2 linked regions of the Homo sapiens genome follow. The main gene of each other region encodes a partner of the protein of the gene in region 2 in a complex. Each region holds a gene or a part of one and is shown on either strand. Other genes may lie near its edges. The genes, in order: CELF1 and CALR3.

The links.
Region 1: CALR3 (region 2) and CELF1 share a complex: the UniProt entries of both Homo sapiens proteins name them as parts of the EIF2 complex.

What each region holds. Positions count from the first base shown.
Region 1 is NC_000011.10:47,549,054-47,558,230, forward strand, and holds the start of CELF1 (CUGBP Elav-like family member 1), read right to left. Parts: upstream 4,080-9,177; 5' UTR 3,939-4,079; intron 1-3,938. UniProt on the Homo sapiens protein: RNA-binding protein implicated in the regulation of several post-transcriptional events. Involved in pre-mRNA alternative splicing, mRNA translation and stability.
Region 2 is NC_000019.10:16,492,078-16,501,131, reverse strand, and holds the start of CALR3 (calreticulin-3 precursor), read left to right. Parts: upstream 1-4,964; 5' UTR 4,965-5,002; coding exon 5,003-5,093; intron 5,094-5,279; coding exon 5,280-5,381; intron 5,382-9,054. Other genes in the region: uncharacterized protein C19orf44, read right to left, coding at 1-339. UniProt on the Homo sapiens protein: During spermatogenesis, may act as a lectin-independent chaperone for specific client proteins such as ADAM3. Required for sperm fertility. CALR3 capacity for calcium-binding may be absent or much lower than that of CALR.

The sequences.
Region 1 (9,177 bases), on a different chromosome or scaffold from region 2:
AAAACTACCACAGTGAGGTATCTCACACCCATTAAGATGGCCATGAAAAAATAAAAAGTATTGTCAAGGATGTAGAGAAACTGGAACCCTTGTGTACTACTGGCAAGACTGTAAAATGGTGCAACTGCTATAGAAAAAAGTATAGGGGTTCTTCAAAAAACAAACAAACAAATAAAAAAACACTATTCCAGTGGCCTAGATTCTTTCAAAATAATAAAAATTAAAAACAGAATTATCACTTGATCCAGCAATCCCACTTTGGGGTATATATCCAAAACAACTGATATTGTTCCAGAGGCTGGAATACCTATTTGCACACCTAGTCACATTAGCACTATTCACAATAGCCAAGAGGTAGCTGCAACCCAAAAGTCCATTAGTGGATGCAGTCCATAAACAATATGATATATATATATACACAATGGAGTATTAGCCTTAAAAAGGAAATAAATCCGGTCACACAGTACAACATGGATGAGTCTTGAGGACATTACACTAAGTGAAATAAGTCTGTCACAAAAAACAGACATGGTATGATTCCACTTACATGATGTTATCTAAAGTAGTCAAATTGGTAGAAACAGAAATAATGGTGGTTACCAGGGGCTAGTAGGAGGGGGAAAAGGGGAGCTGTTGTCCAACAGGCATAGAGTTTCAGATACGCAAGATGAAAAACTCACAGATCTGTTTTCCAACAGTGCGAATGTACTTAATGTCACAGAACACTTAAAAATGGCTAAGTTAGTAAATGTTGTGGGTTTTTTTTGTTTTTTTTTTTTCTGAGACAGAGTCTTGCCTTGTTGCCCAGGCTGGAGTGCAGTGGTGCAATCTCAGCTCACTGCAACCTCCACCTCCTGGGCTCAAGGGATTCTCCTGCCTCAGCCTCCCAAGTAGCTGGGACTACAGGCACATGCCACCACACCTGGTTAATTTCTGTATTTTTAGTGGAGATGGGGTTTGACCATATTGGCCAGGCTGGTCTCGAACTCCTGACCTCGTGATCCGCCCACCTCAGCCTCCCAAAGTGCTGGGATTACAGGTGTGAGCCACTGCGCCCAGCCAATTTTGTGTTTTTAACCACAATTTTAAAATGTAGGCCAGGCTCAGTGGCTCACATCTGTAATCCGAAGTTCAAAACCAGCCTGGGCAAAACAGTGACACCCTGTCTCTACAAAAACAAACAAACAAAAAAAAACACCGGGTACGGTGGCTTACACCTATAATCCTAGTACTTTGGGAGGCTGAGGTGGGCAGATCACCTGAGGTCAGGAGTTCTAGATCGGCCTGGCCAACATGGTGAAACCCCATCTCTACTAAAAATACAAAAACCCTCTGGGCGCAGTGGTGGGCGCCTGTAATCACAGCTACTCGGGAGGCTGAGGCAGGAGAACTGCTTGAGCCCGGGGGACAGGGTGTGCAGTGAGCACTCCAGTATGGTTGACAGAGCAAGACTCCATGGCGGGGTTGGGGGGGACCGGACCCACATCACAAAACTGTGACTAAGATAAGCCTATTTTGGGAAGATAGGCATTTCTATAGCATATGAAAAGGATGGGCAAGATAAAGACCCAATATTTAACAATCATCTCTGAGTGGTGGCACTATGGGTGAGTTTCTTCATTTTTTGACTTACCTGTTTTTTTTTTATAGTGAATCTGTAACTTCTGTATTAAGAAAAATACACGGAAGTCTTTAGAAAAAAATCATTTTGGCTAAAAACTTCACTGTCTGCCTATTACATCATGGGTATTTCACCATGTTACTGAAGCTGAACTAATACCATGTGAGACAGATGCTGTTTCTTTCATTTTGCAGGTGCGAATAAACTGAGGAGCAGAACAGTTGAGTGACTTGCCAAGGTTGTGTAACCAGTAAATGACAGAGCAAGCATTACAATCCAGGCCTAGTTCTAACTTCAATTCAGGGTCCTTTCCCATTTCATTACACCTCAAAGGGAAGATTGCATTATTACTCGTGATATTGTTTAAAAAAAAAAAAAACATAACCTTGGGCAAGTAAGTCACTTAATTTCTAGGGCCCTCAGTTTCCTCATCCAAAAAGTGAAGGGGTTCTAGAAAAGATATTCCATCTCTAACAGCCCCTCTTGCTACCAGATCTTAAGTCTAGATAGCACAATCTCTAAAGAAAACCCTGGGTTTTCTTTAAAGGGGTCAGAATGAATGGTTGAATAGAAGTTGAGGCCTGTGATCTGGGCCAAAGGCCATTCTTAATGGAAACAGGTGGTGGACTGTCATGAGGAAAGAACCACTAGGGGAACCATAACCTTCCTGGTTAAAGCAACAACTGAAAGCTCCAGCTTTGCTTTACCAACAGTGCTGCTTCAATCTTGGCTAACTCATGATCAGAAACCACATACTAGGTAAGTAAAGCCTGAAGAATATAAAAATTAACATGAGAAGAAAATCACTGTAGCAACAGTTTGTGCATGCTATTGTAATTCCATGATTTTCTAAGTGGACTCTTTAATGCTAAAACAGAAAGGGTGATTCTATATTGAGACGCCTTCATTCTCACCAAGGATTAATAGAGAGGCTGAAACTTCCAAAGCGCTTGGAGAGAAGCTACACTTGTGGGCAAGGGGAAAGCATCCAATTAAAGCCTTCCCAATTCATGGGTAATCAAAGACAGTGAAAAGAACTTTAAAAGGTGAAGTTCCGGGCGGGGGCGGTGGCTCACGCCTGTAATCCCCAGCACTCTGGGAGGTCGAGGCGGGTGGATCACCCGAGGTCAGGAGTTCGAGACCATCCAGCCTGATCAACATGGTGAAACCCCGTCTATACTAAAAATACGAAAATTAGCCAGGCCTGGTGGCACATGCCTGTAATCCCAGCTACTTGGGAGGCTGAGGCAGGAGAATTGCTTGAACCTGGGGAGGTTGCAGTGAGCCGAGATAGCGCCACTGCACTCCAGCCTAAGCAACAAGAGCGAAACTCCGTCTTAAAAAAAAAAAAAAAAAAGATGAAGTTCTTGTAAAAGATTCATTATTTGTAACCTCTTACACTGCACACATTATAAAGCATTTCATGCTCTTTAAAACTGTTATACAGCCTTTTTACTCGAAGGTAATAAACCTACAGCTCTCTCCTGGCGAGAAAGAGATTCCATTTTGCGGAAACAGATTCCAGTCAAAATCTTACCACATTCCCCTCAACTATGGGTATGAGCCTAAACCAATGAGAAGCTCCTTGGTGCATGTGTAATGGTCTCCAAGAATTACAACAACATCCTACCCGGAGGACCACAACCACGACACCACTGGCTTTAAAATCAAAGCCTGGTCCCTAGCGAAGAAAGCGCTTTAATGTGCTCCTCCCGCTCCCGGGTGCGAGATTCCTGCCCAGCTACTAGGCCACGACTGGGTGAGCACCTGATGTGGGGGGAGGGCGAGCCAAGGCCGTAGCGGATCTGGGGCGAGGAACGAGGGGCTCTCGAGGCTCGGGAAAAGCGCTGCCTTCTAGGGGCGCGGACCCTTCGGCACCCACAGGAGTGGACACTAAGAACACGTGAGACGACAGGGGCAGAGATGGGGTGTCCCGGGCAGGTAGCCTGGGTCCAGCACGGCAGCCAGAAAGACGAGGAAAACGGAGCTGGCCCTGGGCAGGGCACGAGGCCTCTGAGCCTAGAGAGTGAAGGTAAAGGGCGCGGGGAGAGGAAGCAAAGCCACGAGGAGGGCGGGTCTCCCTGGGCGCGGGGGCACGCGCTGGGCAAACGCGACAGGACCCGGGGAGCCGGGGACCCCGACATGCAGGAGGAGATCGCAGCCCTACCCCAGGACGCAGGGAACGAGAAAAGGCCGCGCCCGGAGGGCCCTGTGACCCGCGGCCTCCCTAACCGGACCCGCCCCGCGGCGCCTCCCTCTTGCCTTTTTTCCCCTCCCTCCCTCCCGCGGCCCGTTATCCTGCGGCCGCAGCACTCACCAGCGGCTGCACCTGAGCCTGCCGCTGCCTCAGTTGCTGCCTGCGCCTCCGCAGCCGCCGCCGCCGCCTCGCTGCTGAGGCCGAATCCCGGGGGAGCCTCCGCGTCCCGCCGCCGCTGCCGCTGCCGCCAGAGCAGAACACCCCAAAATGGCGGCACTTCCGGCACCTACCACCGGCGGGGAGGGCAGAGGAGGAGGGGGAGCGCGGCGAGGGGGAACGTATCACCGCGGCGCCGCCCGCAGCGCCGATGCGAGCGGAGCGCGGCGTAGGGGCGGGCCGAGCGCCGGGCGCTGCAGCGCCCCCTCGGGCTGGGAAGTGGAGGAGCAGCCGCACCTAAGCCCCTGGGGCCGCGGGCGGAGCCCTCAACCTAGGGAGCTGCAGGGGCGCATCTCTTTGTCTCCGATCCCTACTGGAGGGAAGAGCCAGGCCTGGGAATCTGAAGTTCTCGACTCCGCCCATCGCACCCACAGGAGCTCTAGATGACCCTGGTGGGCAAGGAGGCACCCCTACTGGGCACTGAATAGGAGCATAATAAGATATTTGTTGAATAAATGGATGAGTGAGTGACTGGTGCTTGGCCAGCGTTGGGCACATGGCACGCCCCTTTTTGCCCCAGCAGACAAGCAACAGCATCCAGGCCTTCCTTCTTTGCTGGGATGTGAATATGTGTGTTCCAAGTGCAGGGAGTGCTTTTTAGCAAGATAATCAGTGTGAACGCACAACCTGGCAACGATCGCTGCGACATAAGGAAGTTCACAAAGATTCTATTAAGAGACCGATTGCCCAGCCATAACCTGCTTTTACCGAAAAAAAAATATATATATATATTTTTTTTTCTTAACTCAGGTTAGGTCTCTAAAGACTTCCTCCTGAGTTACTCTGGAATCCCTGGGTCTAGATGGAACGCAAGCAGTACAATTTGTTGTTGTTGTTGTTGTTGTTTAAGCCAACATTTATTCCTAGGTTCCAGACCTTGTGAGGCAGTTAAATGCAGATTAAGAAAGAAAACTTTGTTCTGGAAGCTTTTGGCCCCATCAACATGCAAATAACTCATGGGATGGTTTCTCTCTAACATCATCTGGCTTCCCAGAGAATATAATTTTTATACCCACAAATACTGATTATATCCTACCTTACCACAAACAACAAGTGGGCTTCCAAGCAGAAGCCTCAAGGGTTTTCCTCTTTCGCCTTTGGGGGGGAAAAAAACTAACCAGAGTTTTTCTGGTACCATATAGTCCTTAAATTGTACATGATCATATTCCCTAATTGTACTGGGTAGTTTTATATACATTCATAATGCTGATATATGATCTTGTTCTTGTTAATAGTTTTATGTGTAGTTGACTGAAAACATCCTATATTTATAGACCATTATAGCTTACAGAATGTTGTCACAAATATTACCATATATTTGCTGCTATAGGTTGTAGAAATGTTTCAAGCAGAGAGTCTGTCTCCTTTTGTGCTCCATAGAATCATGTGGATATCCACATGGCTCACTTCCTCACCTCCTTCAGACTTTGACTTAAGTGTCACCTTCTCAGTCCAGTCTTCCCTAAGCACTCTATTTTACACTGCTTGCATGCATGGCATGTGCACACACACACACACCCATGCTTTCAATCCCACTTTCATTTTTATCCAAAACATTTATCATTATCTAACACAGTTTTTTTTTTTTTTTGAGACGGAGTCTAGCTCTTGTCACCCAGGCTGGAGTGCAGTGGCGCGATCTCGGCTCACTGCAACCTCCACCTCCCAGGTTCAAGCAATTCTCCTGCCTCAGCCTCCCGAGTAGCTGGGATTACAGGCGCGTGCCACGATGCCTGACTAATTTTTGTATTTTTAGTGGAGACGGGGTTTCAACCCCTGTTGGTCAGGCTGGTCTCAAACTCCTGACTGCAAGTGTTCTGCCCGCCTCTGCCTCTCAAAGTGCTGGGATTACAGGCGTGAGCCACTGCACCCGGCCTCACAGTATATTTTGTATTTATATATTTTACTTGTTTTATTGACAGTAGCCCAGAAGGTAAACCAAAGGTAAACTTCATGAGGATAGAGGTTTTGTCTGTTTTATTTCACTGCTCTATCCTCAGGGCCTTGATAATGCCTAATCCATAGTACATGCTCAATAAATATTGTTGACTTACTGAATAGGTATATCTAGGTGCCAGATATGGAAAACAAAATGTTGCGCCTTTAGAAGCTTCTTGGAACCTGCCCATGAGCTAAATAAGGAAAGGCACCATGCCCGTCTTATTATATCTCCAGTGCTTTTCACAATATCTGACTCAATAGATATTTCTTGAAGAGCAAACAGAAACTCTTCCATGCCCATCTTGTTATTCTCCTAATATCTCCATTGCTTTTCACTGTATCTAACTCGATAAACTTCTTGAAGAGCAACCAGAAGCTTTTTCCTATTCTATCTGTGCCTTGACTTAGGGCTCCCATTTGCAAGGGAGGAACTTGTAAGGTATTAATATCACTCTTGCATTTAGTTACCAAGGAAGGCCACAGACTGTTAGCCCAAGGTTGGGGGGAAGAACAATTACATGAAGAACACAAATAGATCTTGTAACTTCAAAGGGTTTCAGCAACATAGACAAAATGCTAAACAGTCCAAATACAAAAAAAGCCTAGTGTGAGATTTAAGAGTATGTAAAGCTTCCTGTTTCATGTTTTGCCTTACAAATAGATTAAGATTTATTTTTTTTAAAAAATAGCCAATGTCGGCCAGGCGCGGTAGCTCATGCCTGTAATCCTAGCACTTTGGGAGGCCGAGGCAGATGGATCACCTGAGGTCAGGAGTTCAAGACCAACCTGGTGAAACCCTGTTTCTACTAAAAAATACAAACGTTAGCCAGGCATGATGGCGGGTGCCTGTAATCCCAGCTACTCGGGAGGCTGAGATGGCAGAATAGCTTGAACTTGGGAGACGGTGGTTGCAGTGAGTCGAGATCGAACCACTGCACTCCAGCCTGGGCGACACAGCAAGACTCTGTCTCAAAAAAAAAAAAAAAAAAAAGCCAGTGTTAGTAAGAGTGCAGAGAAATAGCCTTCTCCAAGTGGTGATGGGAGTAAAGTTCAGATAATCTGCCTAGAGGAATCTAAACTTTTACATACCTTTCTAGGAATTTATCCTAAGGGAATATTCATGGATAATGGCAGAGATTGTAACATTTTTTATTTTTTTAATTTTACTTTTCTAGACACAGGGTCTTGCTCTGTCACCCAGCCTGGAGTGTAGTAGTGCTATCATAGTTCACAGCAACCTTGAACTCCTGGGTTCATGAGATCCTTCCACCAGAACCTTGTGAGTAGCTGAGATCACAGGTGTGTGCCACCATGTCCAACTAATTTTTTTTCTTTTGTAGAGACAGGGGTCTCACTATGTTGCCCAGGCTGATCTCAAACTCCTGAGCTCAAGCAACCCTCCCCACTCGGCCTTCCGAAGTTTTGGGATTACAGGTGCGAGCCATGACACCTGACCATAACATTGTTTAAACAGCATAAAATTTGATACAAAATGAGATTGATAAATTATGGTTCATTCATAGCCATATAATAATAGATAAATATAGAGGAAATGATGATAGCCAGGCATGATGGCATACTCCCATAATCCCAGCTACCCTGGAGGCCAAGGCAGGAGGACTGTTTGAGGCCAGGAATTCAAAACCAGCCCAGGCAACATAACAAGACACCATCTCCATATAAATAAAAAATTTAAAAATGTTAGCCTGGCATGGTGGCATGTACATCTGCAGTTCCAACTACTTAAGAAGCTGAGGTAGGAGGATCCCTTCAGCCCAGGAGTTCCAGGTTGCAGTGAGCTATGATCACGACACTGCACTCCAGCCTAGGCATCAGAGTAAGACCCTGTCTCTATTTGGTTATTTATTTATTTATTTATTATTTATTTTGAGACGGAGTCTTGCTCTGTTGCCCATGCTGGAGTACAGTGGCACCATCTTGGCTCACTGCAATGTCTGCCTCTCAGATTCAAGCGATTCTGCTGCCTCAGCCTCCTGAGTAGCTGGGATTACAGGTGCACACCACCACGCCCAGCTAATTTTTGTATTTTTAGTAGAGTCGGGGTTTCCCCATGTTGGTCAGGTTGGCCTTGAACTCCTTACCTCAAGTGATCCGCCCGCCTCAGCCTCGCAAAGTGCCGGGAGCCACCACGCCCGGCCTATTTACTTTTCTTTCTTGGTTTTGTTTGTTTTGTTTTGTTTTTTTTTTGAGGCAGAGTCTGGCTCTGTGGCCCAGGCTGGAGTCCAGTGGCACAATCTCAGCTCACTGCAACCTCCCCCTCCCGGGTTCAAGCGATTCTCCTGCCTCAGCCTCCCGGGTAGCTGGGACTACAGGCACATGCCACCACATCCGGCTAATTTTTTGTATTTTTAGTAGAGACGGGTTTCACCGTGTTAGCCAGGGTACTCTCGATCTCCTGACCTCATGATCCACCCGCCTTGGCCTCCCAAAGTGCTTCAATTACAGGGGTGAGCCATCACGCCCGGCCTATTTTTCTTTTTTTTTTGAGACGGAGTCTCGCTCCGTTGCCCAGGCTGGAGTGCAGTGACTTTTCACAGGCATGATTCCACTACAGATCAGCATGGGAGTTTTGACCTGTTTCTTTTCCAGCCTGAGCCGGTTCACCACTCCTTAGGCAACCTGGTGGTCCCCCACTCTCTGGAGGTCACGATGTTGATGCAGAACTTAGTGCAGACACCTGATTGACATACTGCACTATAGCCCAGAACTTCTGGACTCAAGTGATCCCCCTGCCTCAGCCTCCAGAGTAGTTGGGACTTACAGGCACATGCCACCTCGCCCTGCCCTTGTCTCTAAAAGAAAAAAAGAAAACTCTTTTTTTTTGAGATGGAGTTTTGCTCTTGTTGCCCAGGCTGGAGTGCAATGATGCAATATCGGCTCACTACAACCTCCGCCTCCTGGGTTCAAGAGATTCTCCTGCCTCATCCTCCCGAGTAACTGGAATTACCTGTACCTGCCAGCATGCCCAACTAATTTTTTGTATTTTTAGTAGAGACAGGGTTTCACCATGTTGGCCAGACTGGTCTTGAACTCCTAACCTCAGGTGATCTGCCCGCCTCAGCCTCCGAAAGTGTTGGGATTATAGGCGTGAGCCACCGCGCATGGCCGGAAAGAAAACTCTTAAGGCCTGGTTACATTCAGGCGGTGCTGCGAGCGTCACACTGCATCACATCTGGAGGCC
Region 2 (9,054 bases):
CAAATTCCTCTGCAGCTTCCGATTCATGATCCGGGTTTCCAGCTGGGCCAGCTTCATGAGTGCGGCATTGGCTCGGATCCTGGAGGCAGTGGTGGGCGGTCTACATGAGGCAAGCCTGGGTCCACTCCCGAGCACAGGGTTCTCTTTCAGGAGTAAGTGTTTCTCATCTAGAGTTTGGTTTCTTTTTAGAAATCTGCTATGACCAGGTGCTATTTTGGTAAGATTTCTACTGATCTGGAAGTTTCTGATTTCTTCCATTGTTGAATCTTCCAAGGAAACATCACTGAAGTCACCAAAAACATCACGCATGGGACGGCTGGCTTTCCTTGCAGAAGCCATTCTGTGGAGGAAGAGGAGCAATTTTGCATAAGAGTACCTGCTGTTTGTATTGAGCATTCAATGGCTCCTACTTGGCAAAAGCTCACACTGTCTTTTGCAACCCAGCCACAGTCTTCCCTTCAAGCCCAAGGATGACAATGAAAATGACCAGGCTGGGTGCAGTGGCTCACACCTGTAATCCCAGCACTTTGGGAGGCCGAGGCAGGTGGATCACGATGTCAAGAGATTGAGACCATCCTGGCAAACATGGTGAAACCCCGTCTCTACTAAAAATACAAAAATTAGCTGGACGTGGTGGTGCACAACCTCTCAGGCTCAAGTGATCCTCCTGCCTCAGCCTCCTGTGTAGCTGGGACTACAGGTGCACACCACCATGCCTGCCACTGCACTCTAGCCTGGGCTACAGAGTGAAACCCTGTCTAAAAAAAAAAAAAAAGAAAAAGAAAAAAGAAAAGACAAATTACCTGAAAGAGCAATAAGGTGACGTGTGAAAATCGAGGTATCCCTGTATTTAACAAGCCCCCAGAAAATCAGATTTCACTTAGTGTAAGAACCATTACCAATGGCTGGGCTCAGTGGCTCACACCTATAATGCCAGCAGTTTAGGAGGCCAAGGCAAGCAGATCACCTGAGCCCAGGGGTTCGAGACCAGCCTGGCCAACATGGCAAAGCCCCATCTCTACTAAAAATACAAAAATTAGTCAAGCGCCAGGCGTGGTGGCTCATGCCTATAATCCCAGCACTTTGGTAGGCCGTGGTGGGTGGATCACGAGGTCATAAGTTCAAGACCAGTCTGATCAACATGGTGAAACCCCGTCTCTACTAAAAATACAAAAATTAGCCGGGCCTGGTGGCACCACCTGTAGTCCCAGCTACTTAGGAAGCTGAGGCAGGAGAATCGCTTGAACCCGGGAGGTGGAGGTTGCAGTGAGCCGAGATCACACCACTGCACTCCAGCCTGGACGACAGAGCGAGACTCTGTCTCAAAAAAAAAAGAAGAACCGCTACCCTGGGAAAGAGGGGGGCTATGGACAGGCACAGCTCCCCAGCAGGCCAGCAAATCTTTACCGTATGTGTATATTTTTCTAGGTAGAAATATCAGAGCTTTCATCATATTCTCAGAGTTCCCATATACCCCTGAAAGAGTATGAACAACCCACTGCAAGACTTACAAAGGCTTCCGAAGATTACAAAGACTTTAAAAGATGAAAAACTACAGGCCGGGTGCGGTGGCTCATGCCCGTAATCCCAGCACTTTGGGAGGCCAAGGCGGGTGGATCACGAGGTCAGGAGATCGAGACCACGGTGAAACCCCGTCTCTACTAAAAATACAAAAAAATTAGCCGGGCGTGGTGGCGGGCGCCTGTAGTCCCAGCTACTCCGGAGGCTGAGGCAGGAGAATGGCATGAACCCGGGAGGCGGAGCTTGCAGTGAGCCGAGACTGCGCCACTGCACTCCAGCCTGGGTGACAGAGTAAAACTCCGTCTCAAAAAAAAAGAAAAAAAAAAGATTCTATACAAGAATGAATTATGATTCCTATTAACAATCTGTTTCCCGAATAAACTTGTTTGCTTGTTCCTATCTTAACTACCCTGTACTAGGAGTGCCCAGCACAGGACTGACCACAGGGGTCAGAGAACAGAAAAATATGCCTGGCAGAAATAATGCAGACTTCCTGGTCTGTGTGACCCCGGGCAAGTTACTTAATCGCTCTGTGTCAGCCTGCTCATCTGTAAAAATAACAATTACTACCCTCATAGGATTCCTATATATTCTGTGTGGGACATGAAAAAGTGCTCAGTAACATTTAAATGCCAGTAACAGACTAGGCGTGGTGGCTCACGCCTGTAATCCCAGCACTTTGGGAGGCCGAGGTGGGCGGATCATGAGGTCAGGAGATAGAGACCATCCTGGCTAACACAGTGAAACCCCGTCTCTACTAAAAACACAAAAAATTAGCCGGGCGCGGTGGTGGGCGCCTGTAGTCCCAGCTACTCAGGAGGCCGAGGCAGGAGAATGGCATGAACCCAGGAGGCAGAGCTTGCAGTGAACCGAGATCGCGCCATTGCACTCCAGCCTGGGCAAAAGAGAGAGACTCCGTCTCAAAAAAAAAAAAGAAAAAAACCATGAGGAGCTACTACTTCACATCCCCTAGCATGGCTATAATCAAAAATACACGTAACAAGTGTCAGTGAGGAAGTGAACAGATTGAAGCCCACAGTGGCTCACACCTGTAATCCCAGCACTGTGGGAGGCCAGGATGGGAGGACTGTTTGAACCCATGAGTTCGAGACCAGCCTGGGCAACATAGGGAGACTCCATCTCTACAAAAAATGAAAAAATTAGCTGGGTCTGATGGCACACACCTGTAGTCCCAGTTACTCGGGAGGCTGAGGTGGGAGGATTGCTTGAGCCCAGGAGTTTGAGGCTGCAGTGAGCTATGATCGTGCCACTGGACTCCAGCCCGGATGATAGGGCAAGACCCTATCTCTAAAAAAAATAAAGAAATTGGAACCCTCATATGTTGTTGGGGGAATTGTAAAATTATGTAGTCCTCAATGTGGAAAACAGTTGGTTCCTCAAAAGGTTAGACATAGAGTTACCATGTGATCCAGGGATTCCACTCCCATGTGGCCCAAGAGAAATGCAAATGTATGCAAATGTTCGTAATAGTTTTGTTTTGTTTTGAGACAGGCTCTCACTCTGTTGCCCAGGCTGAGTGCAGTGGTGTTATCATGGCTCACTACAGCCTCGACCTCCCGGGGTCACGCGATCCTCCCACCTCAGCTTCCTGGGTAGCTGGGACTACAGACACACATTGCCATGCCTAGCTAACTTTTTGTAGAAACAAGGTCTCACTGTGTTGCCCAGGCTGTTCTCAGATTCCTGGGGTTCTAGAGATCCGCAGCCTCAGCCTCCCAAAATGCTGAGATTACAATCCCACATCATCATACCTGGCCCCATAATATTTATTACTCCTAGTAGACTAAAACGGAAAACAATGTAACTATCCATTAATTAGTGAATGGATTACAAACTATGGTCCATCCATACAGTGTAATACAGTTCAGCAATTTAAAAAACAAATACTAATATAACAGCACGCAGGAATCTCAAATACATCACGCTAAGGGAAAGTAGCCAAGCCGGGCGCAGTGGCTCACGCCTGTAATCCCAGCACTTTGGGAGGCTAAGGCGGGCGGATCACGAGGTCAGGAGATCGAGACCAGCCTGACACACATGGTAAAACCCCGTCTCTACTAACAATACAAAAATTAGCGGGGCGTGGTGTCATGCGCCTGTAATCCCAAATACTCAGGACGCTGAGACAGGAGAATTGCTTGAACCTGGGAGGCGGAGTTCGCAGTGAGCCGAGATCGCACCATTGCACTTCAGCCTAAGTAACAGAGCGAGAATCTGTCTCAAAAAAAAAAAAAAAAGGAAAGAAAAAAGAAAGTAGCCAGACACTAAACTCCACACACCCTATCATTTCATTTGTAAGAACTGTCAAGAAAAGGCAAACCAATAAACTCAGAAAGCAGATCGGGCCGGTGCTGTGACTCACGCCTATAATCCCAGCACTTTGGGAGGCCAAGGCTGGCAGATTACGTGAGGTCAGGAGTTCGAGACCAGCGTGGCAAACATGGTGAAACCCCATCTCTACTAAAAATACAAAAAATTAGCCGGAGTGCAGTGGCATGATCACAGCTCACAGCAGCCCTTGACCTCCTGGACACAAGCAATCCTCCCTCCTGCCTCAACATCCTGAGTAGCTGGGACTACAGGCGCGTGCCACTACACCTGGCTAATTTTTTATTTTTATCTTTTTTAGAGATGGGGTCTCGCCAGGTTGCCCAGGCTGGTCTGGATCTCCTGGCCTCAAGTGATCCTCCCGCCTCTGCCTCCCAAAGTGCTGGGATTCCAGGCGTGAATCACCGCGCCCGGCCTGACGCAAAGTTCTAAAGCTGGATGAGCTGGATGGTGGCGACGGCTTCACAACTTTGTAGATTTACTAAAAATAACGGAGTCGTCAGCTTAAAAGTGGCGAACACTATGGTATGTAAATGAAGGCTCAATAAAGTTGTTACAAATCAACAAACCAAAACTTGAAAACCCTGGCGCCCCTGAGACCATCCTGCTCTTCTCCCCAGCTATGAAGCGACCCGCGCAGGACCATGCTCCAATAGACCCCAGACAGGGAAACTGAGGCGCGGGACCATCCTGCAGCGGCCCAACCAGCTCAGCCCCGGAGAAGGCCCCATTTCCCCGTATCCCCCTCGCGAGCCCGGACGCCCAGCTAGGTCACCTCCCCACCAGCCCTGCCGACCTCTTCCCACGCCGTCCATTCGCAGAGGCAGCCGCCACATTCACGCCTGAAGGAGCGGTTGCCCTGGGCAACAGAGCCAGAGCAGAAGAGACTACATCTCCCGGGAAGCACCGCGCCCCGCAGACCAATGGCGCCCCGAATCACAATCGCGGGGTGTCATGGGAGCGGTAGTTCCGGGGCGGGCCCAACGTGCCCCGCGCCGCAGCGACCAATGGGACCCTCAGGTCATAATCGCGAGTTGTGACGGGAGTTGTAGTTTCGGGACGCGCCTGAAGAGCCGCAGAGAGAGCTGGGAGCTAAGGGGTGGCGGCGACCGGAAGCGCAGTGCACACCCCCATGGCCCGGGCTTTGGTCCAGCTCTGGGCCATATGCATGCTGCGAGTGGCGCTGGCTACCGTCTATTTCCAAGAGGAATTTCTAGACGGAGGTGAAGGGGCCACGCCCGTGGTGGCGGAGGTGTAAGCTCCCCCATCTCCGCCCCCTAAGGCTGGCCAGAGTCGCCACGGGGTCCACGGCAGCGAACCCTCGAATCCTCGAGGGTCCCCTTCACCCTTCCCTTAGCCCAAATTAACCATTATCACCTCTAACCGGTGTTATTTCCCCTTCCCCACAGAGCATTGGAGAAACCGATGGTTGCAGTCCACCAATGACTCCCGATTTGGGCATTTTAGACTTTCGTCGGGCAAGTTTTATGGTCATAAAGAGAAAGATAAAGGTTAGTGTAGAATCAGGACCAAATTGAGCCTAATGTTACATTTCCATAGCAACCTCTCTAGGTAGTTGTGGCACAGCCAAAACGCTTTTATTCCCGTTTTACAGATGAAGACATTAAGGCAAAGGTAGAACTTAAGGGGCTCCTTTCCTTGTTTTTTTGTTTCTTCTCTCCTTTTTTTTTTTTTTTTTTTTTGAGACGGAGCCTTGCTCTGTTGCCCAGGCTGGAGTGCAGTGGCGCGATTTCGGCTCACTGCAACTTCCACCTCCCGGGTTCAAGCAATTCTCCTGCCTCAGCCTCCCGAGTAGCTGAGACTACAGGCGCGCGCCACCATGACCGGCTAATTTTTGTACTTTTAGTAGAGACAGGGTCCACGTTGGCCAGGCTGGTCTCGAACTCCTGACCTCATGATCCACCCACCTTGGCCTCCCAAAGTGCTGGGATTACAGGCATGAGCCACAACATCCAGCCTCCTCTCTCCTTTCTTTATTGCCAAAGATTCCTTTTTTTTTTTTTTTTTTTTTTTGGTAGTAGGAGTCTCGCTCTGTCGCCTAGGCTAGAGTGCAGTGGCACGATCTTGGCTCACTCAAACCTCCGTCTCCCGGGTTCAAGTGATTCTCTTGCTTCAGGCTTCTGAGGAGCTGCGATTACAAGCGTGCGCCACCATGCCCTGCTAATTTTTTTAGAGACAGAGTTTCACCACATTGCCCAGGCTGGACTCAAACTCCTGGCCTTAAGTAATCCACCTGCCTCGGCCTCCTAAAGTGCTGGGATTATAGGCGTGAGCCATGGTGCTTGGCCTATTATCATTATTATTACTTTTATTGGTATTAGGTCCCCTGAAGTCCAAGGAGACATATTCAGCTTATTTGGTATAATAAAATCATACTTGAAGCACTGTCAAATATGCAATGGTATTTAACCTTCTTTGGATTATATTTATATGAATGTGTTATTAGTAGGCATTACCAAAATTGCCCCTCTTAATAGACACTAGTCAAGTGCATTTGAGGATCAAGGGCCATGCCCCTCAGAAGGAAAAGGTTAGTGGGTACTTTTTCTCATTTTAATTTTCGTATTAAAAAGAAAAATAGGCCAGGCGCGGTGGCTCATGCCTGTAATCCCAGCACTTTGGGAGGCCTTAGGCGAGCGGATCATGAGGTCAGGAGTTCAAAACCAGTCTGGCCAATACGGTGACACCCTGTCTCTACTAAAAATACAAAAATTAGCTGGGTGTGGTGGCTCATGCCTGTAGTCCCAGCTACTCGGGAGGCTGAGGCAGAAGAATCACTTGAACCCGGGAGGCAGAGGTTGCAGTGAGCAGAGATCATGCCCCTGCACTCCAGCCTCAGTGACAGAGTGAGACTCCATCTCAAAAAAAAAGAAAAATATGGTCAGGCACGGTGGCTCACGCCTGTAATCCCAGCATGTTGGGAGGCCAAGGCAGGCGGATTACTTGAAGTCAGGAGTTTGAGACCAGCCTGGTCACCATGGTGAAACCCTGTCTCCACAAAAATACAAAAAAGTTAGCCAAGTGTGGTGGCGCACAACTATAATCCCAGCTAATTGGGAGGCTGAGGCAGAAGAATCGTTTGTACCCAGGAGGCAGAGGTTGCAGTGAACTGAGATTGTACCACTGCACTCCAGCCTGGGTGACAGAATGAGACTCCATTTCAAAAAATAAAAGAAAAAAATACAGAGATAAACATTACATCTTGTCGCCTGCACATTCTTCAGGGTACAACACAATGAGCTTTTACTTTTGTACAGGCAGGTCAAGATAAGGCAAGCGAATCACTTGAGGTTGAGACCAGCCCGGCCAACATGGCGAAACTCCGTCTCTATTAAAAATACAAAAATTAGCTGGGCATGGTGGCACACATCTATAATCTCACCTACTTCAGAGGCTGAGGCAGGAGAATCACTTGAACCCAGGAGGCGGAGGTTGCAGGGAGCCAAGATCATGCCACTGCACTCCAGCCTGGATAACCGAGCAAGACTCTGTCTCAAGAAAAAAAATATATATATATACAAATATTAGCCGAGCATGGTGGCATAGGCCTGTAGTCCCAGCTACTTGAGAGATTGAGGCAGGAGAATCACATGAACCCGAGAGGCGGAGGTTGCAGTGAGTCGAGATCGTGCCACTACACTCCAGCCTGGGCAACAGAGCAAGACTCTGTCTCAAAAAAAAAAAAAAAAAAAAAAAAATTCTAGCTTCAAGAGAGCTAATTCAAGCTCAAAGTTTAAGGACAACTGTGTGGAAAACACAGATCCCAAAGAATAGAAGTCAGTGTTCTGAAGTGTAGAAGTTTGGGATCATTTGTATAGACAAAGTTTAGAGAAGCTTAACAGAATTTCAGCATCTTTCTAGGCAAGGCTTGATAGATAATGACCATGATCCCATTAGTCAAGGTGGTCTTTTTCTTTTGAGAAGGTATATTTAACATTTCACCCTGAAGATGTAACAGTCACGGCATCTTTTGTGCCATCTGGTCTGAGTTAGGTACAGGTCAGTCCTGGAGGCAGTTAATCTGTAACTAAGGTCAGTGGTCACAAATAGAGGAGGCCTGGTCTCTGGTTTGTCCTAGTCATTTGCCAAACAAGAACAATGAGGAAGAAGGTTTATCTATGATTTAAGAAGCAGAGGTTACACCTGCATGCTGCATGACTCAGATCACACAACTTGCTCAAGGTTTTTATTTATTTTATGTATTTATTTGAGAGAGAGTTTCACCCTTGTTACCCAGGCTGGAGTGCAATGGCGTGATCTCTGCTCACCACAACCTCCGCCTCCCAGGTTCAAATGATTCTCCTGCTTCCAGCCTCCCAAGTAGCTAAGATTACAGGCATGTGCCACCACACCTGGCTAATTTTTTTTTTTTTTTTTTTGAGACGGAGTCTCGCTCTGTAGCCCAGGATGGAGTGCAGTGGCGCGATCTCGGCTCACTGCAAGCTCTGCCTCCTGGGTTCACGCCATTCTTCTGCCGAGTAGCCGGAACTACAGGCGCCTGCCACCACGCCCGGCTAATTTTTTGTATTTTTTTTTTTTTAGTAGAGACAGGGTTTCACGTGTTAGCCAGGATGATCTCGATCTCCTGACCTCGTGATCCTCCCGCCTCGGCCTCCCAAAGTGCTGGGATTACAGGCATGAGCCACCGCGCCCGGCCTAATTTTGTATTTTTAGTAGAGACAGGGTTTCTCCATGTTGGTCAGGCTGGTCTCCAACTCCCAACCTCAGGTGATCCGCCCGCCTCGGCCTCCCAAAGTGTTGGAATTACAGGCGTGAGCCACTGCGTCTGGCTTATTTATTTTTTTAAACGGAGTTTCGCCCTGCCACCCAGGCTGGGGTGCAATGGCTCCTCCATCTCCCAGGTTCAAACAGTTCAGCTGCCTGAGCTTCCCGAGTAGCTGGGACCACAGGCACGCGCCACTACGCTCGGCTAATTTTGTATTTTTAGTAGAAATGGAGTTTCCCCACGTTGGCCAGGCTGGTCTCGAACTTCTGACTTCAAGTGATCCACCCGGCTCAGCCTCCCAAAGTGTTGAGATTACAGATGTGAGCCACCATGCCTGGCCTCTCAAGGCTTTAAATTGTATTTGCTTTCACATATGTGAAAGTTTAGGCCAGGCACAGTGGTTCACACCTGTAATCTTAGCACTCTGGGAGGCCAAG